Regions from separate parts of the Homo sapiens genome. Here all the other regions are linked to region 2. The links come from fine-mapping of genetic effects on gene expression. A gene starts in region 2. Each other region holds a variant in brackets. All regions are shown on one strand. Distances are from middle to middle. Region 1 overlaps MYO9B (myosin IXB). Region 2 holds the start of MYO9B (myosin IXB). Region 3 overlaps MYO9B (myosin IXB). Region 4 overlaps MYO9B (myosin IXB).

Region 1 (7,904 bases), 35 kb before region 2:
CTAGGGGGTTTGCGGCCTTGGGCATGCACCTCTGGTCAGGCCCTGTCAGCTACAGTGAGGAAGGGGGCTGGTGTGAGAGACCAGGAGGATGACAGGGTCCTGCTCGGTGACTCTGGGCCCACAGGTTCCATGATCCTCTTCCCACTGAGTCCCTGGCAGACTGTGCGCCCTGCAGGCAGGATGCACGCGATCTCAGAGCCCAGGAGGCAGCTGGAAACCCTTCAAGAGATGGGGCCTGCTGATGTTCAGCCCTGTGAGGGGGTTCAAGGCAAGGAGGGAACCCCGCACAGCTCCTGCCAGCCTAGCCAGGTCCCAAATGCATGGGCTGTACTACCACTCCCAGCTGTGGGGCAGAGAGACAGAGTGAGTTAGCTCCGCCGAACCCTGTGGGACATCTCTATCTGTGTCCTCCTTTCCTGACTCCCCAAACTGCTTTATGACTCTGTGTGGGGAAATGGATGTTTATGAATACGTATGTATGTCTATGGCACGGATACAAATGCAGAGATTCCAGCTGGTGATCTGGGCTGTCTGGATCTAGGATGGAAAGCTGCTTTCATTACATTTGGGAAGGGGGAGCTGAGCAGAAGATAAGAAGACACCTGGGGGCCGGGTGCAGTGGCTCACACCTGTAATCCCAGCACTTTGTGGGGGACGAGGTGGGTGGATCACTTGAGGTCAGGAGTTTGAGACCAGCCAGGCCAACATGGTGAATCCCCATTTCTACTAAAAATACAAAAATTAGCCAGGTGTTGTGGTGGGCGCCTGTAATACCAACTACTCGGGAGGCTGAAGCAGGAGAATTGCTTGAACCCGGGAGGCGGAGGTTGCAGTGAACTGAGATCGCACCACTGAACTCCAGCCTGGGCGACCAAGCAAGACTCCATTTCAAAAAAAAAAAAAAAAAGGCATCTGTGAAATGGTCACCTTTATGGGGTTCTGGAACATTCTACGAAGCGGTGGATGTACTGGGGTAGACAAAGGAAAAAAAATTCCTATAAAGGGCCAGGTAGTAAATATTTTCAGCTTTGTGGGCCATGCAGTGTCTCGGGTGCAATTACTCGGCTCTGCACTCATGGTGCCAAAGATGCCAGGGATGATATGTAAATGCATGGGCATGGTTATGCACCAATAAAACTTTATTTGTAGAGATAGGCACTGGCAGATTTAACTCATGGGCTGTAGTTTGCCAACCCCTGGTAGATACCAAAGGAAATGAAACCTTGCTGGCGTGGTGGCACGTGGCTGTAGTCCCAGCTAATTTGGAGGCTGAGGCAGGAGGCTCACTTGAGCCTAGGAGGTTGAGGCTGCAGTGAACTATGACTGGACCACTGCACCTCAGCTTGGGCGACAGGGCTAGACCCTGTCTCTAAAAAAAATTTTTTTTAAAGTTAAGAAAAATGAAAAGACACTAAAAAGACGAAGTGTTTTATTAAAAAAAAAAAAAAAAAAGGGGAAAAGCAACTGGGGGAACCAAAAGAGATAATGAAACGTGTCATGGTTCTGCCAAAGTGGGGAATCTCTGGCCGCTGATCCTGTTTCCCGGCAGTGGTTCTTGACTTGTTTCCTGCTGGGGAGATGCTTAAAGGAGCGAGACCTGAGCCACAGCCAGCACCTGGCATAGGTTTCAAGAAGTCACCCCAGGAGGACAGGGAGGACCACAGAATCCAGGGCGCACAAACCAGCACTCTCCTGGATCAGAAAACCGGCAAACCTCTTTGATTACATTCCTTTGCAAAAAACCCCAGCAGGGAGCATGTTACTTCTCAGTGCAGGCGGAAGTCCTAAAATCAGGGACTGCGGTTTTTGGCATGGGGAGCAAGTCTTACAAACAACATTGTAAGACGTCACTCAGTGCACCTGGAAGAGCAGGCTCTTGGAAAGCCAGATCCTCACGCACCTAGGGCCGCTTCATCATCGGTGACACGAGGACATGCCTGATCGTGGGTGAGCAGTGACCGTCCCCTGGGCTCTGGGTGGGCAATGAGTGAGAGGTGAGGAGGCACACCAGTCACCTCCCCCAAGGGACGAGGGAGAACGCCGGACTGAAACTGCTTCCCGCCACGCCCAACAGCCACTCCACAATCGTGCCGAATTTGGTCGGGTTGATGTGTAACTCCAATGGCACAATGTTACCAAGAAAAAAAGAATCTACAAATATTTAGGCAGAGACCATCTGTTACAATGAAATCTATCTTGTCATACAGTTGGCCTAAAACAGCAGTTCTCAACTGGGGGGTGGTTCTGCTCCTCAGGGAACACCTGTCAACATCTGGAGACGTTTCTGGTTGTCGGGACTAGGGGCGGGGGTGCTATGGGCAACTAGTGGGCAGGGATCAGGATGCTGCTCAGTCCCCCATGATGCACAGGATGGCCTGGCCATAACGGAATGATCCAGCCCACATATCAACAGGGCAGGGGTTGGGAACTTGGGTTGGACCAGGAAGCCTGGCCTCTGTCCCCAAGGGTTTCTGACTGTGAGGTCTAAAACTGACCCTATATGATGGCTTATTCTGCTTTCTCGTCGCCTCTGGGGTTTGCCCTGCCCCGTCTCCTGCCTGCCCTGCATTCGGGCCCCAGCTCCTATCTCCTCCTCTGGGCTGCTCTGCAGACCCAGGGCCCCCAAAAACTGCTTCCCCCTACCTTTGTGCAAACATCCCGGGGAGGCCACACAGGAGAGGCAGCCAGAGATTGATTCTATCTTCGCTTCCTGTGGTGCCCGGGGTGCCCAGCTCACCCCCCTCAGGGACCTTCAGTAGCTTGCGGTCAGGGCCACATTGTACCTCCTCCTTCTGTCCTTGCACCACCCTGTCTTCCACACACGCCTGCCTGTGTGGATGGGTGACCTAGATGTTTGTGTGGATAACCATCCCGCTGTTTAGCCTTTCGGATGGCCTGGGCTAGCCTGAGTCTTGACCGCTCGCAGGGCGAGCAGGGGGGAAACTCCTGAGAGCCCTAATTCTGCCTCCTCTTTCCCCACCACAGCAGTGCGCCTACCCGAGAGGAGGACGGGCACCCAATGACCCTGGCCCTGCTTCCCCAACCCGGCCCTGGACACGCTGGCCTTCCAATCTCCCTTTGAAGTGCACCAGGCTGCTGCCCCGGACCCTCCTGAGCCCAAGCTTGCTGCCCACCCTGCTGCCCACTGACGCCCCACCTTCCTTCTCCCTCAGCCCAGCAAAGTGACAAGTGGTCTCAGAGACCCTCAGCCTCAAATACCTCTGCATTCATGTAACATAGACACAACTCAAGCCAGTGGGGGCTCCTGGACCCTTTGACAGACAGACGGGTGCTGACTGCAGGTATTGCTCTTCCTCAAACAAATGCTGGCTTCCCTTTGCTCCTCGTGACATGGGTGACTTCTGCCTTCTGAGGCCTTGGCCCCGTCCTGACCCTGAGCCTCCTCCGGTCTGTGGCCTATGCCCTGAATCTCATCCCTGAAATGCCCCCCAATGAGAGGGGAGCCACACGCCCCCTCTCAACACTTACCTCTCCTGACAAACTCACCTCCCTGTATGGCCAACAGCCAAGGGCTGGGTGAGTGCCTGGCTGGGAGGTGCCCCAGCTTGCTGTCTGTCCCTGACCCCTCTCTGACTGGGTCATGCGACAGGATGGCCTCTGAGGCCTGATGAGCCCTGGGGCTGCGGGATTCTTTGTGTGGCTGGTGCACAATTCTCCCTTGGATGCCCCATCAGCTGCTTGAACGAAGCACCCCAAACCAAATTCACCAGGACTGGCCTCCGGGCAGTTCCCCTGCAGCCATCTCTGACCCCCTCTCCTCCTCCCTTGGGACCTGTCCGTCCTCAGCTATCAGCCTCAGATCTGGCACATCCCCGCGGCTGGGGTTGCTCCCAGGACTCCCTCTCTGTCGCACTTGGGAAGCCACGTGCAAACGCTCCTGCCCGAGTCCAGGGCCCCCGCCAGCCGGCCCGTCCGCCCTGCTCCCTGAAGCCAGCCTCCCTCTGGCCACTGGCTTCTCAGCAGGCTGGGAAGAACGTGCAGATGGATGTCCCTGCTGTACCTGGACGTCCCTGCTATACCTGGGCACGCCTGCCCCCTTCTTGCTTCCTCCCACCCCGGCTCCTGGTCCCACCTGGTGTCCCTCGGTGGCTCCAGCCATTAGCACGCCCGAAGCAGCCTGCTGGAGAGGACTGCTCTCCTCCTTCCCAGGGCTCATGACAGTCTCCAGGGGATCCTCTGTGTGAGTGTCAATCCCCCCACTCCCCAACATTGTTCTTGTGGGGGACACTGATGGGGGAGGTTGGCCTGGCTGGGGCAGGGGTCCAGGAAAACCCCAACCACATACCAGCCATACAAAGGAATGAAATGCTGATACAACTGGTGGGCAGAGAAACAAATTATGGTCCATCCTCCATCCATACCGTGGAATATGATGCAGCCATGAAAAGGAAGGAAGCACTGATCCATGCTACGACGTGTATGAATCTCAAGAACATGATACCAAGTGAGAGAAGCCAGACACAAAAGGCCACAGAGTGTGAGAGATTCCATTGATCTGAAATGTCCAGAACAGGCAGATCCATAGAGACAGGAAGCAGGTTAGTGGCTGCCAGGGCCTGGGAGAGGGAAGTGGGGAGTGAA[T/C]GCTGATGGGGACGGGGTCTCCTTTCAGGGGGATGGAAATGTTCTGGAACTGCATAGAGGCGACGGTTGCATACCACTGCGAGTGTACTAAATGCCACTGAATTGCACACTTTTGCCTGAGGCCAGGAGTTGGAGACCAGCCTTGGTGACATAACAAAACCCTGTCTCTACAAAAAATAAAAAAATTAGCCAGGGGTGGTGGTGTGCACCTGTATTCTCAGCTGCTTGAGAGGCTGAGGTGGGAGGATCACTTGAGGCCAGGAATTTGAGGCTGCAGATATAATTTAATTTACAGATTTATAAACTGCAGATATAATTTATACATTTATAAAATGCAGATACAATTTAATCTATATATTTATAAACTGTAGATATAAATATAAGGTATCTATTTATAAATAAGTAAATAGGTAAATTATATCTCCATAAGCTCTTAAACAGGAACCTCAACTTCAGAGGCATGAGAGTTGACACACACCTGGTTCCAGAAACTTCTATCTCTGCCACCCTTGCTGAGCAGCTCGTGTGCCTCAGTTTCCTCACATGTCAGGTGGGGGTGGTCAGTCTGCCCACATCAGGATGTGGTGAGGACGTATGAGATGACGCCCCCAATGCTGGGTGGAGGCTGGCATCCAACTGTGTCTTGCCCGACAGACTCAGGGGGAAAGGACGTGGCCCAGGCAGGTGTCCTTGAGGGCAGAGGTCGAAGTGGATAATGGCACTGTGGTCTAGGTGACCTACCCCAGTGCTGACTGTGGGTGGGGGAACAGAGCTAGTGGCCTGGCTGATGGCAGAGGGGCTGGGGGAGTTGGGGGAAACATGAGACTGGGTTTGTAGGGCCCCTAAGGAGGAGCTCAGGACCCGGTCCAGGTGGGTACGAGTCCTAGGTTCCTTTGCCCCAAGAGGGGGGTCTGGGGCAGTGGCACGTTCAGGACCCTTCCTCAGTCCCTCACTGGAATGTCCTGGGCATCGGCACAACTTCGGGTGAGCTTGGCTCCACCAGCTGGGGGCGTCCCTCTGCGCCCTGCAGCCCATCACTGTCACCGTGTCCCACTGTGGGCCGGGCCACAGGGGCTCCATGGAGTCCAGGGACCCTTGGGACAACAGCCTGACAAGCAAGGATCCTTATTTTATTTCTGCTTTCAGAATGAAAACCCCATGCACGCTGCCAGCTGCCAGCTGCACTTGCTACAGTTCAGGACAGATGAAGGGAACCCCAGCCTTTGGCCCCCTGGACTCAGCCTGCTCTCAGAAGGGCACCGAGGCGAGTGCCTGGTGGATCTGAGGCTGTGGGCAAAGGGAGAGGAGCGTGTTCTGGGTGTGCTTTGCGGCGAGACCCCATGGCCGATGCTGTAAGGTGCTCTATCCACAGCCCCTGGGCTGTCGACGGGCGCCTGCACTGGGAGGCTAGAGGCCATGTGGAAGATGGGGAGACTCATGGCTTCTGCAGCCCCTAGACTTGGTGAAAGGTGATGGCAACAGTTAACTGCAGTGGCGGGCAGATCAGCTGATTGGAACCGGCTTTCCACAGTGCTCCCTTCCTGTTTTTTGGTCAGCATTACACAGCGAGGCTGCAACCCTCGCGGGGGGCGGGGGTCAGGGGGTGCATCCAGCGACACTCAAACCTCAAAACAGCTCAACTTCTCCTTTCGGGGAGCTGAGAAAAAATCCCCAATCGATGCAGCGAGTTGTGCTGATCTCCGGCTTTCTGCAGCCCGGGCGAGAGAGGGGAGAGCAGAGAGGCAGCCTGAACGGGGGGCTGGGGCTCAGGCCGGGTTCAAACCCCGGGTTAGGCTTTGGCTCTCTGCGGTGTGGCCTGGGGAATCTACCTGCAGTGGGTTGACTTGTGGCTTCCCAAAAAAGACATGTCTAAGTCCTTACCCCCAGAACCTGTGACTGTGGCTTTATCTGGAAACGGGGTCTTGGCAGATGTCATGAAGGTAAGTATTTTGAGATGAGGTGATCCCATGAGAGAAAGGCAAGGGAGATTGGACACACACAGGGGAGAAGACCAGGTGACGACGGAGGGAGAGGGCAGAGTGATGCGGCCACAAGCCCAGAGCTCCAAGGATGGCTGAAGCCACCAGAACCCGGGAGAGAGGCCTGGGACAGATTCTCCCTCAGAGCCTCCAGAGGGACCCAGCCCTGCCCACACCTTGATTTTCAACTTCTGGCCTCCAGAACTGTGAGAGAATCAACCCCTGCTGTTTGAGGGCTCCCAGCCCGTAATACTTTGTTATAGACACCTCAGGAAACTCACACATCCACGTGTCTCTCTGGGGCTCAGTTTCCTCATCTTTAAAATGGGCAGAGCTGCCGTGAGGGATTAGAGATGATGGAGGAAAATCACGAAGCCCAAACCCTGATACCCAGTGGGCCTGAGGTCTTATTCCTCTTATTAGAAAATGATGGCCGGGCGCAGTGGCTCATGCTTGTAATCCCAGCACTTTGGGAGGCTGAGGTGGGCGGACCACGAGGTCAGGAGATCGAGACCATTCTGGCTAACACGGTGAAACCCCATCTCTACTAAAAATACAAAAAATTAGCTGGGTGTGGTGGTGAGCACCTGTAGTCCCAGCTACTCAGGAGGCTGAGGCAGGAGAATGGCACGAACCCGGGAGGCAGAACTTGCAGTGAGCCGAGATCGCGCCACTGCACTCCAGCCCGGAGACAGAGAGAAACTCTGTTTCAAAATAAATAAATAAATAAATAAATAAATAAATAAATAAATAAATAAATAAAATTAAAAAAAAGATTCTTGGGGCCAGGCATGGTGGCTCACGCCTATAATCCCAGCACTTTGGGAGGCTGAGGAGGGCAGATTACTTGAGGTCAGGAGTTTGAGACCAGCCTGGCCACTATGGTGAAACCCGTCTCTACTAAAAATACAAACATTAGCCGGGCACGGTGGTGGGCGCCTGTAGTCCCAGCTACTCGGGAGGGCTGAGGCAGGAGAATCAAACCCAGGAGGCAGAGGTTCCAGTGAGCCGAGATCGTGCCACTGCACTCCAGCCTGGGCGATAGAGCAAGACTCTATCTCAAAAAAAGAAAAAAAGAAAATGACTCTTAAGTTAGCACAGAACAGAAAGAACTCACAGATAATTTCTAAAAGCTCAGTGGCTGCAATGAACAGTGATTGGGTCTTATGGGAAGAACTCAAAGACAGCTGTTCTATTCCCAGGGGGTGATTTGTCCCCAGGGGACAACGGGAAGCTATTTTGTTAATACCTCTCTAATCAATGAAATGTCTGGGGACACTTCTGGGTGTCACACCTGCGGGGTGGGGAGTGCTCCTGGCATCT
Region 2 (7,788 bases):
GTATGAGTATATTTGGGATTTTTTTTTTTTTTAAGAGATGGGGGTGTCGTTCTGTCACCCAGGCTGGAATGCAGTGCCATGATCATAGCTCACTGTAGCCTCAAACTCCCAGGCTCAAGCGATCTGTCTGTCTCAGCTTCTTAAAGTGCTGGGACCACAGGCATTCACCATCATGTCTAGCTAATTTTAGTATTTTTTTGTAGAGATGGGATCTTGCTATGTTGTCCAGGCTGGTCTTAAACTCCTGGCCTCAAGTGATCCTCCTGCCTCAGCCTCCCAAAGGGCTGAGATTACAGGCGTGTGCCACCAAGCCTCGCCTAGAGACAGGGTCTTTATGGGGATGATTCAGTTAAAATGATGTCATTAGGGTGGGCCCCCTTCCATATGACTGCTGTCCTCATAAGAGGAAATTTGGACACAGAGACAGGCACAGAGGGAGGACGATGTGAAGACCCAGGGGAAGACGGCTATGTATGAGCCAACAGAGAGAGGCGTGGAACAGATTCTCACAGCCCTCCGAAGGCACGAACCCTGCCAACACCTTGATCTTGAATGTGATCTTAAACGTCTGGCCTCTAGAACTGCAAGCCAATATACTTCTGTCGTTCTGGCCACCCAGCGTGCGGTTCTGTTACAGCAGCCCTAGCAAACTCAGGCACCCAGCAACAACAGTCATGAAACACCCCTAGCGGGGCTCCTTCTCTTGCACATACAGCCCTGTGCAGCAGGGCAGAGATGGGTTTTAAACAAGTGAGTCAGACAAGGATATCTTATTCATCACTCCGACGAACCCATGGGCTGAACCCTTGAATCACTACTTTATTTATCATCGGGCTCGGGCTCAGAAAGTCTCGCTGAGGAAATGAGTAGAACCCAAACTCGTCAGCTGCATTTCTGAAACATGCCTAATCTCTGAGGCTCTTTCCCAGCCACGATAGAAATTGAAAGGGAACGGGGCTCTGGGCTGCGGCGGTGGGCTGGTGTGGAGACAGAGCCCTTTGTTCTGCCACTCCAGGGACCACGAGGGCAGAAGAGAAGGGCTTGTCTTGCTTTGCCGAGAGGCCGCCTGGGGCCGTCTGAATGGCCGGCCGAGCAGGGGCAGCCTGGCACAGCTGGGCTGGGGATGCCGGGCACACAAAGGGCTGGTGGGTGGGGTGTGGGGGCAGCACCCAGAAGGGACCGTCAGTCCCGTGGCCCCAGAGCGTCTCCTCCAATCAAGGTAAAGCAGCAAAGTCACGGTCAAGGAGGGGGCCAAGCAGGGAAGGGGACAGCAAGATGGACCAAGAACAAAAATTCAGCAGTATGTGCTTGGGAACGGGCGGGCGAAAGGGCCCATGGAAGAGATAATGCAGCTTACAAAAGCGACGTTTATCCGGGGCAACCTCCAAAGTAGCTCTTGGGAGAGAATCTAATACCTCTAATCTCAGAAGAAAAGCAACAGATCATTCTAAGACGAGGACAGTTCCTCCAGAAATCCAGGTCAGTCACAAGACAAAGAAAAGACAAGGGCACCCGCTGTCCACCCTCGGGCACGTTGCCTACCCTCCCACAGTCCGTTCCTAACGGTTCCTCCTTTTTATCAAGACCCGCTCCCTCCTGATTAAGAACTGACTGGATGGCAGGATTCAGTTCCTGGTCTCTGCCCCTGTTCCCACTCTTAGTGGCAGTTCCTCAGGGGCTCCACAAACACCAAGGACCCACCAAGGCAATGATGGGCCCTAGAGGGGAACCAGGTTTTACTAATGAGCATCACATTTCACCTGGCGGGGGAGGTGATTCTGCCCCCAGGGGACACGTGGCCATGGCTGGAGTCATTTTCAGTTGTTACCCCTTGGAGGGGATGGAATACTACTGGCATCTCATGGGTGACAGCCAGGGACACTATTCCACATTCTACAGTGCACAGCCCCAACTGTCAATGGTGATGCGGGTGAGAAACGGCCCTGGAGATTTGGGTTTCCCCAGTTAAAGGTTACTAAGGATCCTGCATGTTTCTAGAAAGCTCAAGGAACCATCTCTGAAGTCATCACCTGCCTGGGCCTGTTTCTGTATCAGGAAGATAAGAACAAGGACCCTCGCACTGCCGGTTGGCAGAATGAGAGAGCTGGGATGCCCTGTACAGGCCGGGCTTCAAAGGTATCTGCTTGTGCAATCCCTTCCACCCGGAGTGGTTTAACACGTGGTATCTTTCCAGGTTTGACCTGGGGCCAGCCACTACTTCCGAGGAAACTTGCTGGAATCCCCCTTGTCCTAAAGCTTGCATTGGTTGTCCCTAATTCTCCCCCCATAATATCTTGTGGCCCCTCTGTCACCGTACTGATGACCTGATCTGAATTCCATTCTTTTTTTTAATTATTATTATTTTTGAGGGCATCTTGCTCTGTCACCCAGACTGGAGTGCAATGGCGCAATCTTGGCTGGCTGCAAACTCCGCCTCCTGGGTTCAAGCAATTCTCCTGTCTCAGCCTCCAGAGTAGCTGGGACTACAGGCGCACATCACCACGCCGGGCTAATTTTTGTATTTTTAGTGGAGACAGGGTTTCTCCATATTGGTCAGGCTGGTCTTGAACTCCTGACCTTGTGATCCACCCACCTTGGCCTCCCAAAGGGATTACAGGCCTGAGCCACCGCGGCCCAGCTTGAACTCCATTCTTTCTGAAGAGGAAGTGCAAAGTTGTCGGGGGCGGGCATTAGCGTGTCCGTCCTCTGGGTCATAAGGATTCACCTCTGTCCCCAGGAATCTACCAAGTGTCTGGCACAATCAACCCTTGCCTAACTGAAATCTAGGCCCACCCAAGACACACCATTTGGAAGAGATGAGGAATGGGAAGCAGCAAGTTAACAAGTCCATGTGGGGAGAGAATAACGAATCCTACAGCCAAACAGAAAGGGGAGATTCCCACGTCTCTACCTGCTCCACTGAGTCACCAGACTGGACCCGAGGGACGGTACTGCCTCGGGATTTCCAGAAATTTGCAGTTTCCAAAGCTTTGGGAATAGGTGCAATGTGCAAAAGCACCTTCAACACCGCAATTTTCTATTTGGACGATGAAGAAGCGGTTGAAAAAAAATCATTTTTGGATACAAACTGTCGAATGGAAAACGGAATAAAAGTAGGATCATCGCAGCCAGGAATGGAGAGTGGGGGTGCTGTGAGGAGTTCAAGGCCGGGAGCTGGGGGACATGGACTGGAGACAAGACGGTGATGAGAAGAGTTGGGTTTCAAGGTTGAAAAACGCTGATGGAGGTCAATTCATTCATTTTGCAGGTGAGAGGTCAGAAACAGGCACAGAGACTTGACCAAAGCCAGGATCTCCAACACAGTGCTCCCCCCACAAGACCCTGCTTGGCCATTCTCTAGCGGCAGGGAAGAGGCGATTGCAGGGCTGCGGGATCAGAAGATCCCGGTCCTGTTCTGTAGGCCAGTGCAAGCCTACAGTTCAATGTTTGCAGGAGGCATGACTGTGGGCTGTCACTGCATGTCCTGGGGCAAGCCAGGCCAAAGCCACCTTTCCTAAAGGCCAGGATATTCTGGAAGTGAAGGGGGTGCTTATCTTTCTGTGGCCCTCTTTATATTCCAGCTATCCGGGTTCATCTCCTGAATGAGCTATAAACTAAACATAAGCTGGGGTTCCCCAGCCCTTCTGGCAGATCCCAGATAAAGATCCCTACAGTTGGGAAAGGGGAGAAATGAATGCCAATCAAAAGCACCCTGCACAAAGTCCCTGCCAGGGCCACAAGAGCCAGGCCTGTCAGATGTGAATAACTTTCCTGTAGCCCAGGTCACCTCCGGCTGCTCCTGGACACCTTAAGATTCTGAAGACTCCAACATCAAAAAACAAACCGAGTTGGGACTCTCTGGCTGGAAAGTGTCCCCACGGGCTCCCACCTCAGACAAAGAGGCAGAGAAGCCATCCCTTAAAGACCCCTGGCCTCCAGGGTGCCCAGGAAAGAAAGGAGGGCTCGTGGCTGTCGTGCCTCTCCAGGGCTGAGCTCAGAGCAACCGGGGGACAGATTTCCTGTATGTCGTTTTACCCATTTAAGTCCAAGGATGCAGCTCTGCGGAGGTGGCGACAGTCCTGTACATGAGGGTGCATGCACACTCCCTCCTGAAACACAGTTCCGGCCCCACAACCGGCCCTGAGGTCCCTTCCTTGGATCCAGGGAATCCCAGAATCCTGCTAGTCCTGTCTTAAGGGGAGGGTGGTGAAGTTTCCAAGACGAGGACACTGGCACAGAGGGTGTTGGGACTCGTCCCAGGTCACCCAGCTGTTAAGTGTGAAGTCAGGAGGGACACGAATCAAGAGGGGAGGGTGGGGGGACGGAATCTCCAGGGGCTGCATCTCAACATCTATCTGCACGGGGCCACTCTAACCCCTTCCTTCTCTTCCCTCCTCTCCGGGCCCTCCCTCCCTAAGCCTACCCTCAGTTCTTACCGTGACTTCTACTCCGTTTACTTCCCTTCCAGCTCCCATTTCCCCGCTTCCCAATAGCCGGCTGCCGCATCAGTTAGTTCAGAACCCCCCGCATTTACTGAGCGCCCACTGGGGGCCAGGCGCCGCCCTCTTCTCAGACACCCTTCCTTCAATCGCGCGGGCAGACGTCCCCAGATCGGTCTCGCACCCCTTCCCCTCAACCGCACCCCGGCTGTCCCGCCCCTGGCCTTGCCCACTCCCCCAGCCTGGGCCTCTCGTTCCCGCCTCCGTGCCTCCCCACAACGCCGTTTCCTGCGACCCCCCAATTACCACTTAAGCCACGTCCTCTTCAGAGAAGCTGCTCAAAGCCACAAGACTCACCCCCCCCACGCCCTCGAACTCCCTCACCAGCTCCATCCCCATCCACTTTCTCCTTCACCGTCTCGCTTCCACCTCATCCCCAGCAATCTCTCCAAGACCCCCAGGCTCGTTCCCGCCCCCTCGACCCCTGCCGTCGCGTCCCCCATCAGCCCTCAGCTCCGTCCCTCTTCTGCGCAGCCCCCAAAGGCAGGCTTCGAGCTCGAGTCGCCAACCCGAGGCTGCCTGGTACTCACCTGGCCTCGGCCGCCGCGCGCCGCCGGTCCCGGGCCGGGTCCCCGGCCGGACGACCGCCTGCCAGCCCGCCGCTGCTCGAGCCGCTCCGCCCCGCCGCGCCCGCCGCTCCCCCGCGCGCTCCCGCTTCCGGGTTCCGGAGAGGCGGGGACGGGGGCGTGACGCCAGCGCTCCTAGGGGCGGGGCATCGCGAAAAGCCCCGCCCCTACTGTCCGACAGATCAGGTCCCACCCACCGCCCCTACCCACTACCGCCGATGGTGGGCGAGACCAAGTGCGAGGGGAGGACAGGCGAAGCGCGCGTCTGGGGCCGCGCTCTCCACACTTAGCCGGCGCTGCCTCACGCCTCGCAGCCACCCCTCCTGCGTCTCCACAAATGGTCCGACCCGCAAGCAAGGGGGCGGGTCCGGCTTTGAAAAGCCGGCGGGTCGGGCCTTGAGGTGGAAGGCGGGAAAATGGCGGATTCCTCGGGGCGAGGCGCTGGGTGAGTTGGGGCTTCCGCAGGTCTGGATTTGTAGACGCCATAGGGCTGGAGAGGATGGGCAGCGGAGGTGGGGAGTTAGGACCCTCGGGGTGAGTTCGGGTTCGACCCCGCCAGGAACTGCGCGGGCCCCTGAAGACCCCGATGGCGTGCTGCCTCTGCGCATGCTCCGGAGCGCTGACACCCGACCGGCCCTGAGTTCCGCGTCCTCGGCTGGGACGCTGGGCGACCTCCGGCAAGCGGCCTGACCGCCCAGTGCCTCGCTTTCCTCCGCTACGAAATGGGGCCGATGACGCAGCTCAACCTCGTAGGCGTCGCGTGAGGCTGAAACGCGCTTAGATCGGCGCCTGGGTCTTTACTGTGATGTCGCTCTTGGAATTATCGTTATGCAGTGAACAAGTGTTGGGCGACCAAAGTGTCCCCTTTAATCCTCCCACGCGCTTTATTCTGTGCTCCCAGTTTACTGAGGAGATGATGGAGACCCAGGGAGGGGAAGTGACTTGCCTAGGGTAACACACCATGAACAAGAAAGAAGTTGAATACTGACCGAGAGCTAGGCATGAATGATCATGAGGCTATATTTGTCTAGTTTTGTTAATTCTGCCAGTGTTGATTGTGCCAGGTGCAAACTGAAGTGAAATTGGCCAGCAAGAGGAATCACTCCACCGCCCCTTGCCGTAACCGATAGATTGACAGTAGCACCTCCCAGGTACAGGTGCAGTAGCTGAGGCTCGCACAGGTTGTAGGGACCCCCCTCAGGTCGCAGCAGGTTCACCCAGGAGCCCATTCGGTTTGAGGCCACAGCCCTAGCACAGTCCCCAGAGGGAGTCTGTGCTCTTGTCTCTTTCTGGCTGTGAGACTGCCCCGGGGGTGACCTATGTAAAACCTGTGCGTCTTTGTTTTGCAGCGACGAAAAAGCAGGTGTGAACAGTTAGGAAGCTGTCGGGTTAGGAGGAGCCTACGGGCGAGCGCAGCTGCTGGCACCTGGCGAACATTTGCTAAGTTGCCTCTCCCCACGGTGGCCTGGAAGTGTCCCCAACATTGTCTGGGTCTCACTTTGGGGTCCTGGGAGCCTGCTTCAGAGGAGGTGGCCGCAGGGACCAGTGGAGCCGCCTTTGGTGATGGGAGCAGGAGTTACAGTGCCCTGGCCTTGGCCCTGCCCCTCCACTTGCCCATCCACTTGCCCCTCCTGTGTTGCTGGTGTCTGTTCTTGGATCCCTTCTTTTCTCACCAGCTCAGGCTGAAACCCTGAAACCCCTAGTCATCCCAGATTCTCCCTCTCCTGCACCCCCACAGCTGATGAGTCAGCGATTCCTATCTCAGGGTCCCTTCTTTCCTATTACATCAGGCTTCATTCTATTTTTATTTTTATTTTTATTTTTATTTATTTATTTATTGAGACGGAGTCTCACTGTCACCCTGGCTGGAGTGCAATGGCGTGATCTTGGCTCACTGCAACCTGTGCCTCCCGGGTTCAAGCAGTTCTCCTGTGTCAGTCTCCTGAGTAGGAGGGACTACAGGCGCATGCCACCACCCCAGCTCATTTTTGTATTTTTAGTAGAGATGGGGTTTCACCATGTTAGCCAGGATGGTCTCGATCTCCTGACCTCGTGATCCGCCAGCCTCAGCCTCCCAAAGTGAGGTACCTGCTGGGACCACTCCTCGTACCTGCCTGTCAAGATGTTGTTCTTCCCTTTCTGGGAAGGAGCTCTGTGTTTTGTTACCACTGTGTCTCTACTGGAATATAGTAGGTGCATCAATGTCTGGTGAATGAATGAACCCAGGGATAATTTGAGATCTGCTGTGATCTCTTCCACAGAGCTCTCATTACCCTCCTCTCTTCTCAGTTTGGGTGTTCACCTATGCCTTCTTGCCCAGGTGACCAGGGCTGGCTGCTCCTTGTGTCCCTTTTCCTGTTGAGGTGGCCCACCCTCACTGAAATTGTCCTCTGGCAGCCCTTGGACTGGGCTGTCTGAGCTTCAACTAGCAGAGGCACCTCGCCGGCTTCCCTGTGCTTCTTGGGTAGTGAGGTGAACAAGACCTCTCTCTCTTCTCTTGCAGGAAGCCTGCAACCGGCCCCACAAATTCTAGCAGTGCCAAGAAGAAGGATAAAAGAGTTCAAGGTAAGCAGTGTCAGGATCTCTTTAAGGAACATGGTTTTCTTCTTTCATTACGTGCTTTTGGAGGAAGAAAAAAACAGGCCAGAGAAGGGGGCCTGTGGCTTTACTTCCTTGTAGTCACACCTGTGGGGATTCTGGGTCTGGCCATCCCAGCCCTGTGG
Region 3 (7,904 bases), 22 kb before region 2:
CTTGAACTCCTGGGCTCAAGCAATCCTCCTCCCTCAGCCTTCCAAAGCATTGGGATTATAGATGTGGGCCACCGAGCTTGGCCTGAAACCCGCATTTTCCAAACAAATGCCCCCTCCCACAGACCGACCAGCTTCCCCGCTCACCTCCAGCACAGGGCCAGCACCCAGGATGGTCCTCTCGACGCCGCTGGCGTAGCCCTTCTGGCTGAGGGCGGTGAGGCAGTGGATGAGGAAGTTGGTGCTCTGGGTCTTGCCGGAGCCGCTCTCACCCGAGATCACGATGCACTGGTTCACGCGCTTCCTGAGCATGGTGTAGTAGGCCACGTCGGCCAGCGCGAAGACGTGTGGCTCCAGCTTGCCCAGCTGCTGGTTCTCATACATCTTCACGTACTTGGGGTTGTAGATGGGCAGGAACTTAAAGGGGTTGATGGCCACCAGGATGCTCCCCGCGTACGTGTAGATCTTTTGTTGCAGGAAGCGGTGCTTGAGGTTCTTCAGGAGGTTGCCCTCGGTTAGCTCGGGGAGGTTACACAGGTCATCAAAGTCCGCCTGCTGCCGTGGCAGGAGGCCACGCTCCACTAGGCGCCGGGTGGCTGTGGCCTGCGCCACCAGCTGCATATGCACGTACTTGATGGTTCCATCTGCGTTGCGCTCCTGCAGCAGGAAGTAGTAGCCATCCTCCTGAGGGTGCTCGTCCTGTGCCCGCCGGGGCCATAGCAGCACCCGGTGCACAGGCGAGTCGTTGGCGTCCAGCACCCATTCCTCGCCTCCCGACTCTTTGACCTCCACCAGCACATAACATTTGGTGCCGTCCAGCCGCAGGCTGGCAATGGCGTCCTTGATGACGTCCGAGGTGGTGCTGTCCTTGGTGGCAGTCACGCGGCACGAGGCCTGGCTCTCGGTGGTGGACAGCTGGGGGTAGATGTGCAGGTGGTAGGCCGCCTGCTCCCGGCGGCCCGAGCTGCCTGCCTCTTTCACACTCATCCTGCCGGCCGCCTGGCTTCAGCATGCCTCCCAGGCTCGGGGCGCGCGTGTCCTGGAGCTAGAAGGGAGGTCAGAGCCAGGCATGGTCAGAATGGTGGGAGGAAGTTTAAGGGGCATGTGGAGTCCCACTCCTGGGCAGATAGCACCTGACCCGATGCTGGAGTTCCCCACCCGACTAGGCTCGCCCAAAAAGCCAGAGGCAACCAGTCACGACATCCCGTGAGGGTCTGTCTGTCCTTCAATGTGACCTCAGGCTCCTGCAGTGGCTCATGCTTATAATCCCAACACTTTAGGAGGCCAAGGTGGGAGGATCGCTTGAGGCCAGGAGTTTGAGACCAGCCTGGGCAACATAGCGAGACCCCGTCTCTACAAAAAATAAAGGCATAGTGGTGCTCGCCTGTGGTCCCAGCTCCTCAGGAGGCTGAGATGGGAGGATCACTTGAACCCAGGAGATCGAGGCTGCAGTGAGCCATGATTATACCAGCTGTGCTCCAGCCTGGGTGAGAGAGAGAGACCCTGTCACTTAAAAAAAAATACAGTGGCTTTTACAAGTGACATCATCAGACAACCCCAAGACCTGACCCTTCCCCTGAGTTTGCTCCATCCCAGCCCCCATCCCACCCCATCCAGAGGCAGCCTCTCAATCCTGAAGCCCAACAAGCCATGACCCTCTTTCTGCTATGCCCTTCCCAGCCCACATCCTTCCTGACCTCATCTCTGAATAAACCTCCCCAGCAGCTCCCCAAGCAGAAGACGACTCGGCCCCACAGGCCTTGGCCACACAGCAGTAACAGCGAGAGGCATGTGGGGATGAGCAAGACTGAACCTGTCCTGAAATTTGGGATTCCCAAAACTCCAGGGTCCTTGAAACCCAACCTAGGAAGATGAAGTCCGGGAGAGCCACGAAAAATGCACTCGGGAATGGCCTAGAGTGTGGTTGCTTCTGAAGCCACAACTCCAGACTACTGGGGAGAAGAACATCAGGCAGGCCCAGGCTGGGGGCATCCTGCAGGAATATGGCTGGTGGTCCCAAGACTGCCAAGGTCACGGGCAACAAGGAAAGACTGAGGAGCTAGCTGTCCAAGACCACAGGAGATTCTCAATGCGATAGGACTCCCTGGAAAGGATCCTCTACCAGAGAGAGGGCTTGAATGGAAGAGCTAGTGACACCAGAAGCACACCAGGAAGGTGGTAAGTAGCAGTCTGCCAATACCAATTTCTTTTCTTTTTCTTTTTTTGTTTTTGAGATAAGAGTCTCGTGCTGTCGCCCAGGCTAGAGTGCAGTGGTGTGATCTCGGCTCACTGCAACCTCTGCTGCCTGGGTTCAAGCAATTCTTCTGCCTCAGCCTCCTGAGTAGCTGGGACTATAGGCATGCGCCACCACACCCGGCTAATTTTTGTATTTTTTTAAGTAGAGATGGGGTTTTGCCATGTTGGCCAGGCTGGTCTCAAACTCCTGACCTCAGGTGATGTGCCAACCTCGACTTCCCTAAGTGCTGGGATTAGAGGGGTGAGCCACCACGCCTGGCCTACAAGTGCAGGTTTCTTATACACATATATCGTGTAGTGGTGAAGTCTGGGCTTTTTTTTTTTTGAGATGGAGTTTCGCTCTTTGTTGCCCAGGCTCTAGTGCAGTGGCATGATGTCGGCTCACTGCAACCTCCACCTCCTGGGTTCAAGCGATTCTCCTGTCTCAGCCTCCCAAGTAGCTGGGATTACAGGCACCCCGCCACCACGCCCGGCTAATTTTTTTTGTATTTTTAGCATAGACAGGGTTTCACTATGTTGGCCAGGCTGGTCTCGAACTCCTGACCTCAGGTGATCCATCCTCCTCGGCCTCCCAAAGTGCTGGGATTACAGACATGAGCTACCGCACCCGGCCTTTTTTTTTTTTTTTTTTTTAAGACAGTCTCGCTTTTTCACCCAGGCCGGACTGCAGTGGCGCTATCTTGGCTCACTGCAAGCTCCGCCTCCCGGGTTCACGCCATTCTCCTGCCTCAGCCTCTCGAGTAGCTGAGACAACAGGCGCCCGCCACCGCGCCTGGCTAATTTTTTTTTGTATTTTTAGTAGAGATGGAGTTTCACCATGTTAGCCAGGATGGTCTCTATCTCCTGACCTCGTGATCCACCCGCTTCGGGCTTCCAAAGTGCTCTCATTATGTTGGCTAGGTGGCCTTGAACTCCTAAGCTCAAACGATCCTCCCGCCTTGGCCTCCCAAAGTGCTAGGATTACAGGAGTGAGCCACTGCGCCAGGCCAATCTGGGCTTTTGGGATACACATTGCCTGAATAGTGAACATCGTACCCAACGGGAAATTTGTTCACCCTCACCCTCCTCCCCCCATCACCTTCTGCAGTCCCCAATAACTATTCTGCTCTGTTATGTCCACGTATATAGATTGTTTAGCTCCCCAAAATTCACCCTCTTCATTTTTTTTTTTTTCTTGAGATGGAGTCTCACTCTATCACCATGCTGGAGTCCAGTGGCGGATCTCGGCTCACTGCAACCTCTGCCTCCCGGGTTCAAGTGATTCTCCTGCCTCAGCCTCCCGAGTAGCTGGGACTACAGGCGCCCACCACCATGCCCAACTAATTTTTGTATTTTTAGTAGAGA[C/T]GGGGTTTCACCATGTTGGCCAGGATGGTCTCAATCTCTTGACCTTGTGATCCACCCACTTCGGCTTCCCAAAGTGCTGGGATTACAGGTGTGAGCCACTGCACCTAGCCCTTTTTTTTTTTTTTCCTAAGAGAGAGGGTCGCCCAGTTTCTTCTTCTTTTTTTTTTTTTTGTCAGGGTCTTGCTCTACTTCCCAGGCTGGGGTGCATTGGCATGATCACGGCTCACTGCAGACTTGATCTCCCTGGGCTCATGTGATCCTCTCACCTCTGCCTCACAAGTAGCTGGGACTATAGGTGCACACCACGATGCATGCTGGCTAATGTTTCTGTATTTTCTGTAGAGATGGGGGCCTCACTATATTGCCCAGGTTGTTGTCAAACTCCTGGGCTCAAATGATCCACCTGCCTAGGCCCCCTAGAGTGCTGAGATTATAGGGATGAGTGACTGTGCCCGGCCAAGTTTATTCCTAAAAAGTGCATTTGCTTCTGAAGGTTGCAAGAAAAAGAAATGCTGGTGCCAGCCCACCTAGGGGCTTGGATCAAGAGCCATAAATGCGGCATGAGTCAACCAAGAATGGCTGAGGGTGTGAAGATGAGGCCCAAAGCCAGGCAGGAGAGACTGGTATGCAAACAGACGTGAGTGTAGACGTGAATCCAGCGCAGCAGTTAAAAGACACACAGCAGGAGTGATTATCCTAAAGGACAAGAGAAGACATTAGGGGAGTAGGAATATCTAAGAGGGGTTCTAAGACCAGGCGCGGTCGCTCACGCTTGTAATCCGAGCACTTTGGGAGGCCAAGGCGGGTGGACTGCTTGAGGTCAGGAGTTCAAGACCAGCCTGACCAACATGGTGAAACCCTGTCTGTACTAAAAATACAAAAATTAGCCGGGCACGGTGGTGGGTGCCTGTAATCCCAGCTACTTGGGAGGCTGAGGCAGGAGAATCGCTTGAATCTGGGAGGTGAAGGTTGTAGCGAGCCGCAATCATGCCACTGCATTCTGGCCTGGGCGACAGAGTGAGACTCCATCGTGAAGAAAAAAAAGGTGGGGGGGGGGGGTTCTGAAGGATGAAGAGGAGTTCGTTCACGAGGTGAGTAGAAGAATAAAGGATGGTACAATAGGCCCACCACCTGTTTTTATAAATAAAGTTTTACTGGAAGGCAGCCTTGCCCACACTCCTTTCCTTATTGTCTGTGGCTGCTTTTGCTACAAGAGCAGAGTGAAATAGTTCAGGCACAGACTGTAATATTACAGCCTGGAAAGCCTAAAATATTTACTATCCAGCCCTTCAAAGCAAAGGTTTGCTGACCTCTGCCCTAAAGAGAAGCATGACTCAGCACTGTGACTGAGTGGGGTCAGGGCCACTAGAGGCTCTGAGAATTCCTGCAGAAGTGTTAGAAGGGCTGAGGCTGAAAGAAACGATAACTTATGAGGCCGAGGCAACAGTTCACACAGGGATAGGGAGTGGCGACAGGGAAGAAGGCTGGGGGACACACAAGATTTAACTCTTAAAACTTTCCCCCAGGTTAGTAAGTAACTGTCATGTTTTCTCCCAGGGAAATAGATATATACTGTATAGTTTAATAAATTTTGGATTGTCTTATCCATTTAGCTGTAAAACCTAATTCTTTCCTTGATATGTCAGTGCATTTGTATGTTCCTCCAGGTCATGAGATAAAGCTTTGAGAGCCTGGTTTATTTTTATTTTTATTTTTATTTTTACTATCTAAGATACAGCTTGAGCAACAGGGCGAGATGCTGTTTTTTTTTTTTTAATTTTTTTGAAATGGAGTCTCGCTTTATCACCCAGGCTAGAGCACAGTGCTGTGATCTTGGCTCACTGCAACCTCCGCCTGTTGGGCTGAACCAACTCTACTGCCTCAGCCTCCTGAGTAGCTGGGATTACAGGGGCCCACCACCATGCCCGGCTAATTTTGTGTTTTTAGTAGAGACAGTGTTTCTCTGTTTTAGTAGAGACAGCCATGTTGACTAGGCTGGTCTCGAACTCCTGACTTCAAGTGATCCACCCGCCTCGGCCTCCCAAAGTGCTGGGATTTACAAGCGTGAGCCACCACACCTGGCAGAGACTCTATTTCTTAAAAACAGCAACAACAGGCCGGGCGTGGTGGCTCACGCCTGTAATCCCAGCATTTTGGGAAGCAGAGGCGGGCGGATCACGAGGTCAGATCGAGACCATGGTGAAACCCCATCTCTACTAAAAATACAAAAAATTAGCTGGGCGCAGTGGCGGGCGCCTGTAGTCCCAGCTACTCGGGAGGCTGAGGCAGGAGAATGGCGTGAACCCGGAAGGCGGAGCTTGCAGTGAGCTGAGATCATGCCACTGCACTCCAGCCTGGGCGACAGAGCGAGACTCCGTCTCCAAAAAAAAAAAAAAAACCAACAACAACAACAACAACAACAACAACAACAACAACAACAAACTATCTGAACGAGGCAGCTCATCTGCTTTTTTATTTTTTGAGACAGGGTCTCACTCTGTCACTCAGTCTGGAATGCAGTGGCATGATCTCAGCTCACTGCAGCCTCGACCTCCTGGGCTCAAGTGATCCTCTGACTGTACCACCATGCCCAGCTAATTTTTGTATTTTTTTTTTTGCAGAGAGGGGGTTTTGCCATGTTGCCCAGGCTGGTCTGGAACTCCACCTGCCTTGACCTCCCAAAGTCCTGGGATTACAGGCATGAGCCACTGTGCCTGGCCCTCATCTGCTTTAGAAAACACTTCAGCAGTTTCTTTCAATGTTAAAACACATACCTAGCACGTGACCCTGCAATTCCCCTCTCAGGAGTTACTCAGGAGAAATGAAGCAGATGTCGAGACAGAGACGTGTAACTTCTGAGAGTCCCAAACTGAGAACCCAAATGTCCACCCACCGAATGAACACACTGACCACACCATGGAATATGGTTCAACAATGAGAAGGAACCAACGAGTTCAGGATGGCTGGTTCCTGATGCTCACAGTGATAGGAAACCAATTCAGAATTGTTGGGCTGAGTGAAAGAAGCCTGACAAGGCCAGTGCGGTGGCTTATGCCTGTAATCCCAGCATTTTGGGAGGCCGAGGCGGGCAGATCATGAGGTCAGGAGATCGAGACCATTCCGGCTAACACGGTGAAACCCCTTCTCTACTAAAAATACAAAACCAAAAAAAAATTCGCCAGGCGTGGTGGGGGGGCGCATGTAGTCCCAGCTACTTAGGAGGCTGAGGCGGGAGAATGGTGTGAATCCAGGAGGCGGAGCTTGCACTGAGCCTAGATCGCGCCACTGCACTCCAGCCTGGGTGAAAGAGCGAGACTCCGTCTCAAAAAAAAGAAGAAGCCTGACAAAAGAGATTACATAACTACATACAGACGTAGCAATTCTGCTCCCAGGTATAGACCCAAAAGAATAGAAAGCAGCGACTCAATTCCTTGTACACCAATGTCCACTGCAGCTCTATTCACAATAGCCGAAAGGTGGAAACAACCCCATGTCCATCGGCAGATGAATGCATACACAAAACGTGGTCCATCCACACAACGGAGTATGATTCAGCCATAAAAAGGAAGGAACCACTGCTCCGTGCTACAACATGGATGAACCCCAAAAACATGAAGCTGAGAGAAGCCAGACGCAAAAAAGCCACATGGTGTATGATTCCATTGATATGAAATGTCCAGAACAGGCAAATCCATAGAGACAGGAAGCAGATTGGTGGTTGCCAGGGACTCCGGGAGGGGGAATAGGGAGTGACTGCTCATGGGGACCGCGTTTCCTTTTAAGGGGATGAAAATGTTCTGGAATCAGATAGAGCTGGTCGTTGCACAACACGGTGAATGCACTGACTAGCACACTTAATTTTTTTTTCTTTTTTGAGACACAGTCTTGCACTCCATTGCAGTGCTGCGACCCTGGCTCACTGTAACCTTCACGTCCTGGGTTCAAGCGATTCTCCTGCCTCAGCCTCCCTTCCAATCTCAGGGGATTACAGGCATCCGCCACCACACCGAGCTAATTTTTCTATTTTTGGTAGAGACAGAGTTTCGCCATGTTGGCCAGGCTGGTCTGGAACTCCTGACTTCAAGTGATCTGCCCACCTCAGCCTCCCAAAGTGCTGGAATTACAGGCATGAGCCACTGCGCCTGGCCAAATTTTTATTTTTGAGACTGGATCTCATTCTGTTGCCCAGGCTGGAGTCCAGTGGTGCAATTGTGGCTCACTGCAGTCTCAACCTCCCCTGGCTCAAGCAAACCTCTCACCTCAGCCTCCTGAGCAGCTGGGACTACAGGCACATGCCACCACGCCTG
Region 4 (7,904 bases), 110 kb before region 2:
GACTCTGCTATGTAATCTCAGCCTCTGCCTTCTGGTAGACTCCTTGCACCGGCTACTCTTTGGGATGTATCTGAAAAGCACCCCTGACCTGTCGCTCCCTAATCAAACCTTCTCTGGGCCTCTCCATGTTCCAGATGATGTCCCTGCTCTTAAATGGCCACTTGGACCATCCTCACTGCTAATTCTCCATCCCCGGCTGCCTCTGGATGGACTGCTGCACCGTCCCCCATACTGCGTGGAGGCTGGGGCTGGATGCAGGGACACCGACACCCCTAAGAGTCCGGCATGGGCCTTCTCCTCCCAAACACCTTAGAGAAACTCACCTTTTCAGCATTGGAACGGATGCAGCGGATAAAGAAGGGCTCCGCCTTCCCCAGTGCCTCCAAGAGCTTGTTAAGGGATGTCTGTTAAGGGAAAGAGAAAGCATTTGGGTTGAATCAGGGACCCTGACAGCCGCTGTTCTGTGGGAGCAGACCTGGGACACTCTAGCATCAGTGTGGGGTGGATGGGGTCTGCACAGATGTGGGTCCCTGGTGGTGGGACACAGGAGGTTCCAGCTGGACGTTCTGACCCAAGCCTGCGCTATCCCTGGAAACCCTCGAGGGAGTTATGTGGTCCCCATGGTCCCAGGGCCACCAGTGCTTGTTTTTGCCTCAGGTGGAAGGCTGGGGCTGGGGAGGACCAGACAAACGCTTTCTGGAGATTTGAAACATGTGTCAACCTCAGAAGGGACCACGGATGTAGTGTTTTTTTTGTTTTGTTTTGTTTTTTTTTTTTTGAGACGCAGTCTTGCTCTTGTTGCCCAAGCTGGAGTGCAATGGCGTGATCTTGGCTCACTACAGCCTCCGCCTCCCAGGTTCAAGCAATTCTCCTGCCTCAGCCTCCCAAGGAGCTGAGATTACAGGTGCCCACCATGCCCAGCTAATTTTTGTATCTTTTTTTTTTTTTTTTGAGATGGAGTCTTGCTCTGTCGCCCAGGCTGGAGTGCAGTGGCGCCATCTCGGCTCACTGCAAGCTCCGCCTCCCGGGTTCATGCCATTCTCTTGCCTCAGCCTCCCGAGTAGCTGGGACTACAGGCACCCGCCACTACGCCCGGCTAATTTTTGTATTTTTAGTAGAGGTGGGGTTTCACCGTGTTAGCAAGGATGGTCTCAATCTCCTGACCTCGTGATCCGCCCGCCTCGGCCTCCCAAAGTGCTGGGATTACAGGCTTGAGCCACCGCGCCCGGCCAATTTTTGTATTTTTACTAGAGACGGGCTGTGCTCGGTGTCGGGTGAAGCTACACAAGCCTGAGGCTGAGCTGACCGCCACCTTCTGCCTCTCCTGCTCCACCTACCTGGAACTGGGCGCTGATGCTTGGTGGCTTTTTCTTCTTGTGCAGGTGCAGTAGGGACTTGGTGGTGCGGTCGTGCAGAGTCATGCTGATGATGAGTTTCAGGGACTTGGAGTCCAGTAGGTTCTAGGACAGACACATGGGGTCCGGCCTGCCCTCCCACAGCCCACACGGGCACGGGGAGGCATCACAGGTGTCCCCGAAGCCAGGGCAGAACAGCGTCCCCGCAGCGAGTGCCCGGGCAGCAGCTCTTAGGTTTGGTCTCAGGACCACACTATTGATGTGGGCCCAGTGGAATGAGGTGGGTTTGCACCTTGCACACAGCGCTGGTTCCGGGAGGGCTGATGACAGCCTCTTTCACAGCCTGAGTGGCTGCCCCATTTCCTCTTCCTCTGGGTTAGAGAGGAAGCCAGTGCTACTGAACCTGGCCGTCCCTCTCCTCTGCATAGCTCCTACAGTTTACATTACTTGAGTCAAGAAGGGCCAGGTCCTTTCTGTGCCATCCGCATGAGCTCATCGGACAGGCCACCATCATGTGTCAGCCAGTTCTATCAGCTGACAAGAGGAATTAGCCCTCTCCCATCTGCTAACTAGACTGCAAGGCTATTCTTACTCTTCTTGCAAATTTCTTAAATTGCTGCACTTGTATGTGGAAACGAGACAGAGCGCTTGGGAGGTTCTCTGTCCTGTCTGGAAGCAGCCCAGTAGCCAGGGACTGAAGATGGGGGTGTTAAACGGAAGGGTCCCATTACGTTGGGGCAGGATGAGCTCTGTGGTGCTATGAACCCACTAGAGCTCCCCATGGGACCAGGCTGAGGCCAGACTTCAGCTATGCTTACGCCCCTAGCTTCCTCCCTCACCCCTTCTCTCTGCCTTCTCACGTAAGCCCTCTTCCATAAGCCGCTGTGTGTGCAAATACCCCATCTCAGACCCTGCTTCTGGGAAACCCATAAAGAGACAGCTCTAAATCATCTCAACACGAGAACATTTTTTTTTTCTTGGAGGGAGGGGGAGATAGTGGGAAGGAGGAGGAAATGAAGTTGCAGAAGTGAAAGCTCTCAAGACGGGCAGAGAAGCAAGATATCTTGGAACGTGTCGCGCGGGGTGTGTTTTTTTTTTTACCTTTGGAATGATCTGCTTTTGTTTGATACCTTTACTTTTCCTGTCAAAATATTAAAAATGGTTTTGTGAACAAAAGGAACACAGTGTCGGGATTTGGGTTAGTTCAGCAAGCCACGCCTGGCGGGTTAGACTGAGAGACACAGAGAGAGGGGAGAGAGTGAGAAGGCGCAAGTGCAACAAGGCCACCGCCACCTCTCCACGCTGCACACCGTGGCGTGCCTCAGCCACTGTCTGTGGACACCAGTTTCCCTGGGTTGGCGGCACCCGGACTCTGCTGGTGGCTGCCCCAAAGCTGAGTAAAGTGTTTAGTCTGGGGGCCATTCGGATGTCTGAGAAGTAGGAGGGGCTGGCTAGGAATCTACAGGGTGGGACGTGCATCCAGCGGGGCTTGCTATGGAGGAACTGACATATCCCCCAGATCACAGCAGGATGCCGAGTGGGGCGGAGGGAGCCTGAGCAGTCCTGGTGGTGACCAGGTGACCAGGCTGTCTTTGCCATGTGCTGGTAGATGCCAAGCAGGCCCACAGAGGCCCTTCTGGAACCCTCTGCTGGCAGGGCAGGGACTTGCCCTGCAAAATAACCAAAATGGGGCCTGGGTGGGAGCTCCTTTCAGGATCATGCTGGTGGGAAAGAAGAAAACCAAAGCTGGCCAGGCGCAGTGGCTCACGCCTGTAATCCCAGCACTTTGGGAGGCTGAGGTGAGCGGATCACCTGAGGTCAGGAGTTCAAGGCCAGCCTGGCCAACATGGTGAAACCCTGTCTCTACTAAAAATACAAAAATTAGCCAGGTGTGGTGGCGGGTGCCTGTAATCCCAGCTACTCAAGAGACTGAGGCAGGAGAACTGCTTCAACCCAGGAGGCGGAGGTTGCAGTGAGCCGAGATCGTGCCACTGCACTCCAACCTGGGTGACAGAGAGAGACTCTGTCTCAAAACCCCCCCCAAAACCCAAAGCTGCTCTTTTGGCCGAGGTAAGGAAGGGGATAGCTCCTGTGTTCTCAGACACCTTATGGAATCTTGCAGACCAAGGGGGAAAATAAATAAATAAGTAAATATATTTATTTATTCAAAAGGCCTGGTGCCTTTTGAAGACCGGCTAAGGAGATGGTAACTTGTAGATCTGTGAGATGCCTAGCCATCCGTGGTTGCATTCAGTTTCACCTGAATCCCTGTGGGGTAAAATAAGGCACAACAAGGACAAAAGTTTGAGGCCGAGGTGGGCGGATCATTTGAGGTCAGGAGTTCAAGACCAGCCTGGCCAACATGGTGAAACCCCATCTCTACTAAAAACAGAAAAAAATTAGTCGGGTGTGGTGGTGCACACCTGTAATCCCAGCTACTTGGGAGGCTGAGGCAGGAGAATCACTTGAACCCGGGAGGTGGAGGTTGCAGTGAGCCAAGATTGAGCCACTGCACTCCAGCCTGGCGACAGAGTGAGACTCTGCCTCAAAAAAAAAAGGAACAGAAGTTT[T/G]AAACAGGCTCCCACTGGGTGCGGTGGCTCATGCCTGTAATCCCAGTGCTTTGAGAGGCTGAGGCAGGAAGATCGCTTGAGCCCAGGAGTTTGAGACCAGCCTGACAGCCTGGGCTATAACATAGCAAGATTCCACCTCTACAAACAATAAAATTAGACAGGTGTGGTAATGCGCACCTGTAGTTCCAGCTACTCTGGAGGTTGAGGCAGGAGGATTGCTTGAGCCCAGAAGGTCGAACCTGCCGTGAGCGGTGATCGTTTCACTGCTGCACTGTAGCCTGGGCAACAGAATGAAACCCCCATCTCTTAAAAAAGAAAAAAAAAAAAAAGGGCGGTGAATCATGCCTGTAATCCCAGCACTTTGGGAGGCCAAGACAGACGGATCACCTGAGGTCAAGAGTTCAAGACTAGCCTGGCCAACATGGTGAAACCCCATCTCTACTAAAAATACAAAAAATTAGCTGGAAGTAGTGGCAGGTGTTAGCAATCCCAGCTACTCAGGAGGCTGAGGTGGGAGAATCGCTTGAACCCGGGAGGCAGAGGTTGCAGTGAGCCGAGATCATACCATTGCACTCCAGCCTGGGCAACAAGAGTGAAACTCCGTCTCAAAAAAAGAACGAAAGAACGAAATAAAGAACGAACGAAAGAAAGAAAGAAAGAAAGAAACTGGCTCTCATTGGCTCCCATGCAGGTGCAAGCTTTGCTCTCAGCCAGCCCACACCCCAATGGCCACTAAAAGGCGAGATGTGGTGACCGCAGGTGGATGTCTTGTCAGCTGAGGCTGCTGCCTGCCTGGTGCTGGGTCAGCATAATGGAAGCATGAGAGTCATTACCCCATTTGCAGGCTGAAAGCAGAGACTACTCAATCCCACAGTGTGCTAACAGTCGGGATCCCAAACCGGTTTATGCACCTTCTGGGCTCTCCTGACTGGCTTATGTGGCCACCTGCAGAGATCAGGGCCACCCTCTCTGGGAAATCGCATGCCCTGCTGCAGATGGCTTCTCTGCAAACTCACAGTGGCAAAGGCGGGAGCAAGCTTTGCTCTGCAAGCCAGATAGGCACGGGGAGGAGACGGAGGATGGCACGTTTGCGGGTGGAAAATTAGATGCCTCGAAGAAGGAGTGCTCCTGGGAAGCTGCCCCGTGTGCTGGGAAGCCGGCTGTGCCTGGGCCACAGTGCAGACAGAGGCCAGGGGTGTTATTGATTGGCATTTAGTGATGGCTGGGGGTGGGCCATGAGACAGCACTGTGGTTTTAGTGGCCGATGCAAATTAGGAAGACTGCAGGCCCCGCCGGGGTCGCAGGAGTAGTGGGAGGCGGTTGTCGCACTTGTAAGCAGGGCCTTGGTGGGGGACTCACAGGATGAAGGCGCGGGGTTTCTGGAGCCGACTGAGGGACTGGAGAAGGCTACGGGGGTCCTCGCCCTGCCAGGGCAATCCTTTGATGCTCTTGATCATTTGGTTATGCAAATCGCTGAGGGGAGGGGTGGAGGGGGCGCAGTGACAGAAAGAAGATGGAGTTAGAAGCAGGCCTGCCACCTCGGGGTTCCCAGCGCCATTGGGACCATCCCCAGGCCACTGAAGCCAAAACATGCAGCTGGGGGAAAGACACTGTGCTCAATGCTGCCCCTCTCTCTTTTGCCAGAAATGGGGACTGGGCCAGCCTCCCCAAGCCCTGGAGCGGGGCAGGGCTTTGAGGCAAATTGGACTTGGCAACACAGATCATTGATCCTTTTCAATACATCATTTCCAGCTGGGTGCGGTGGCTCACACCTGTAATCCCAGCACTTTGAGAGGCCGAGGCGGGTGGATCACCTGAGGTCAGGAGTTCGAGACCAGCCTGGCCAACATGGCGAAACTCATCTCTGCTAAAAATACAAAAAGTTAGCTGGGCATGGTGGAGGGCACCTGTAATCCCAGCTACGTGGGAGGCTGAGGCAGAATTGCTTGAACCCGGGAGGCAGAGGTTGCAGTGAGCTGAGATAGTGCCATCCATTGCACTCCAGCCTGGGAGACAGAGCGAGACTCTGTCTCAAAAAAAAAAAAAAAAAAAAAAAAATTATTTCCATCTGGTCATTCCACTTTATTCGATCCTTTTCATTTGGATCACTGAAAAAGTTCTCATATTTAAGAGCCTTTGGGGATATTTATTTATTTATTTATTTATTGAGACGGAGTCTCACTCTGTCGCCCAGGCTGGAGTACAATGGCGCAATCTCAGCTCACTGCAACCTCTGCCTCCTGGGTTCAAGCAATTCTCCTGCCTCAGCCTCCTAAATAGCTAGGATTACAGGCGTGCACCACCATGCCCGGCTAATTTTTGTATTTTTAGTAGAGATGGGGTTTCATCATGTTGGTCAGGGAGGTCTTGAACTCCTGACCTTGTGATCGGCCCACCTCAGCCTTCCAAAGTGCTGGGATTACAGGTGTGAGCCACCGCGCCTGGCTGGGGATATTTATTTAGTTTTAAATTTATTTTTATTTTTATTTTATTTTTTTTTGGAAACAGTGTCTTGCTCTGTTGCCCAGGCTGGAGTGCAGTGGTGCGATCTCAGCTCACTGCAACCTCCACTTTCCAGGTTCAAGCGATTCTCCTGCCTCAGCCTCCTGAGTAGCTGGGATTACAGACATGCATCACCCTGCTCAGCCTATTTATTTTTTAAATTCCATGACAGGCTGGGCGCGGTGGCTCATGCCTGTAATCCCAGCACTTTCGGAGGCTGAGCAGGGCAGATCACCTGAGGTAGGGAGTTCAAGACCAGCCTGGCCAACATGGTGAAACCCCGTCTCTACTAAACACACAAAAATTAGCTGGGCATGGTGGCGCATGCCTGTAGTCCCAGTCACTCCGGAGGCTGAGGCACGACAATCGCTTGAACCTGGGAGGCAGAGGTTGTAGTGAGCCGAGATCGCACCACTGCACTCCAGCCTGGGCAACAGAGTGAGACTCTGTCTAAAAAAAAAAAAAAAAAAAAAAAAATCAGTTGGGGCGACTCAGAAAAAAGACCCTAGGGAGGGTCTCTGTGGGAGGAGCAAATTAGTCTCTCTCCATGATTTTGTGGCCAGATGTCAATCTCCTTGTTGGCTTCATTAAGGCCTTTGGAGGAATTAATTTGAATACAAGAGCCACAGTTTGAACACAGCAGTTCTCAACCGGGGCGGTACCATCCCCATCAGGGGACATCTGCCAATGTCTGCAGACATTTGTGGTTGCCATGACTTGGGGGTGGGGGTGCTCTCCTGGCATCTGGTGGGTGGAGGCCAGGGATGCTGCTCAACACCCTACAGTCTACAGGACGGGTGCCCACCCCAGAGAATGATCTGGCACAGTGCTGAGGTTGAGAAACCCTAGTTTTTTTTTTTTTTTTTTTTTACAGAGTCTTGCTCTGTTGCCCAGGCTGGAGTGCAGTGGTGTGATCTCGGCTCACTGCAAACCCCGCCTCCCAGGTTCAAGTGATTCTCCTGCCTCAGCCTCCCCAGTAGCTAGGATTACAGGTGCACACCACGCCTGGCTAATTTTTGTATTTTTAGTAGACACAGGGTTTCACCATGTTGGCCAGGCTGGTCTTGAATTCCCATCCTCAAGTGACCTGCCCACGTATGCCTCCCCCAAGTGCTGGGATTACAGGGGTGAGCCACTGCGCCCGGCCAGAGAAACCCTAGTTTAAGGGGATAATTACCCTCAAAGCACTCAACCTTACTCGCTTCATTTTGTTTGATGGCTGTGGGCTTAGGCTTGAGCACGCACGCGGAGGTGCAAACTTTGGCACTGATACCGTGTGTGAATTAGAATGCCTTAGAGATGAAAACTGGATGCTTTCAAACTAAATATTAGTGAGGAATGTCTAAATGACAAATGTTTTTGACAGAACTCAGAACTTCTAGAAATGAGGATCTGGTTTTTCCTGCTTTTTTTTTTTTTTTGAATTCCTTATTCCAGACATTTTATTTATTTTTTCTTGTAGGCGTGTGGTCTTGCT

What was found. PIP is the estimated chance that this variant, and not a neighbour inherited with it, causes the effect.
Region 1: its variant is fine-mapped to the expression of MYO9B in skeletal muscle (GTEx, PIP 0.98). The same link has a PIP of 0.9 or more in tibial nerve.
Region 3: its variant is fine-mapped to the expression of MYO9B in whole blood (INTERVAL, PIP 0.93).
Region 4: its variant is fine-mapped to the expression of MYO9B in whole blood (TOPMed, PIP 0.98).

The regions. Positions count from the first base shown.
Region 1 is chr19:17,108,473-17,116,376 of GRCh38, reverse strand. The region is part of intron 2 of MYO9B (myosin IXB); the gene reads right to left. Among named protein-coding and RNA genes, the nearest start is that of SNORA118, 20 kb to the right of the region's middle. RefSeq lists enhancers at 1-74, 5,471-5,972, 5,936-6,045. The variant T/C (reference allele first, on the strand shown) is at 4,603.
Region 2 is chr19:17,073,116-17,080,903 of GRCh38, reverse strand. It overlaps MYO9B (myosin IXB), which reads right to left and starts at 5,127. Exons shown (of 40, transcript NM_004145.4): 1 at 5,030-5,127. HAUS8 (HAUS augmin like complex subunit 8) reads left to right here and starts at 5,452. Exons shown (of 11, transcript NM_033417.2): 1 at 5,452-5,510; 2 at 7,569-7,630. The coding sequence starts at 5,482. RefSeq lists enhancers at 608-1,145, 5,510-5,709 and silencers at 1,158-1,257, 4,691-4,985, 4,980-5,329.
Region 3 is chr19:17,094,798-17,102,701 of GRCh38, reverse strand. MYO9B (myosin IXB) reads right to left here. Exons shown (of 40, transcript NM_004145.4): 2 at 145-1,042. The coding sequence starts at 984. Among named protein-coding and RNA genes, the nearest start is that of SNORA118, 6.5 kb to the right of the region's middle. The variant C/T (reference allele first, on the strand shown) is at 3,598.
Region 4 is chr19:17,178,421-17,186,324 of GRCh38, reverse strand. MYO9B (myosin IXB) reads right to left here. Exons shown (of 40, transcript NM_004145.4): 15 at 5,285-5,398; 16 at 2,457-2,496; 17 at 1,338-1,460; 18 at 324-404. Among named protein-coding and RNA genes, the nearest start is that of USE1, 33 kb to the left of the region's middle. RefSeq lists enhancers at 1,810-2,019, 4,568-5,159, 5,160-5,752 and a silencer at 4,771-5,065. The variant T/G (reference allele first, on the strand shown) is at 3,926.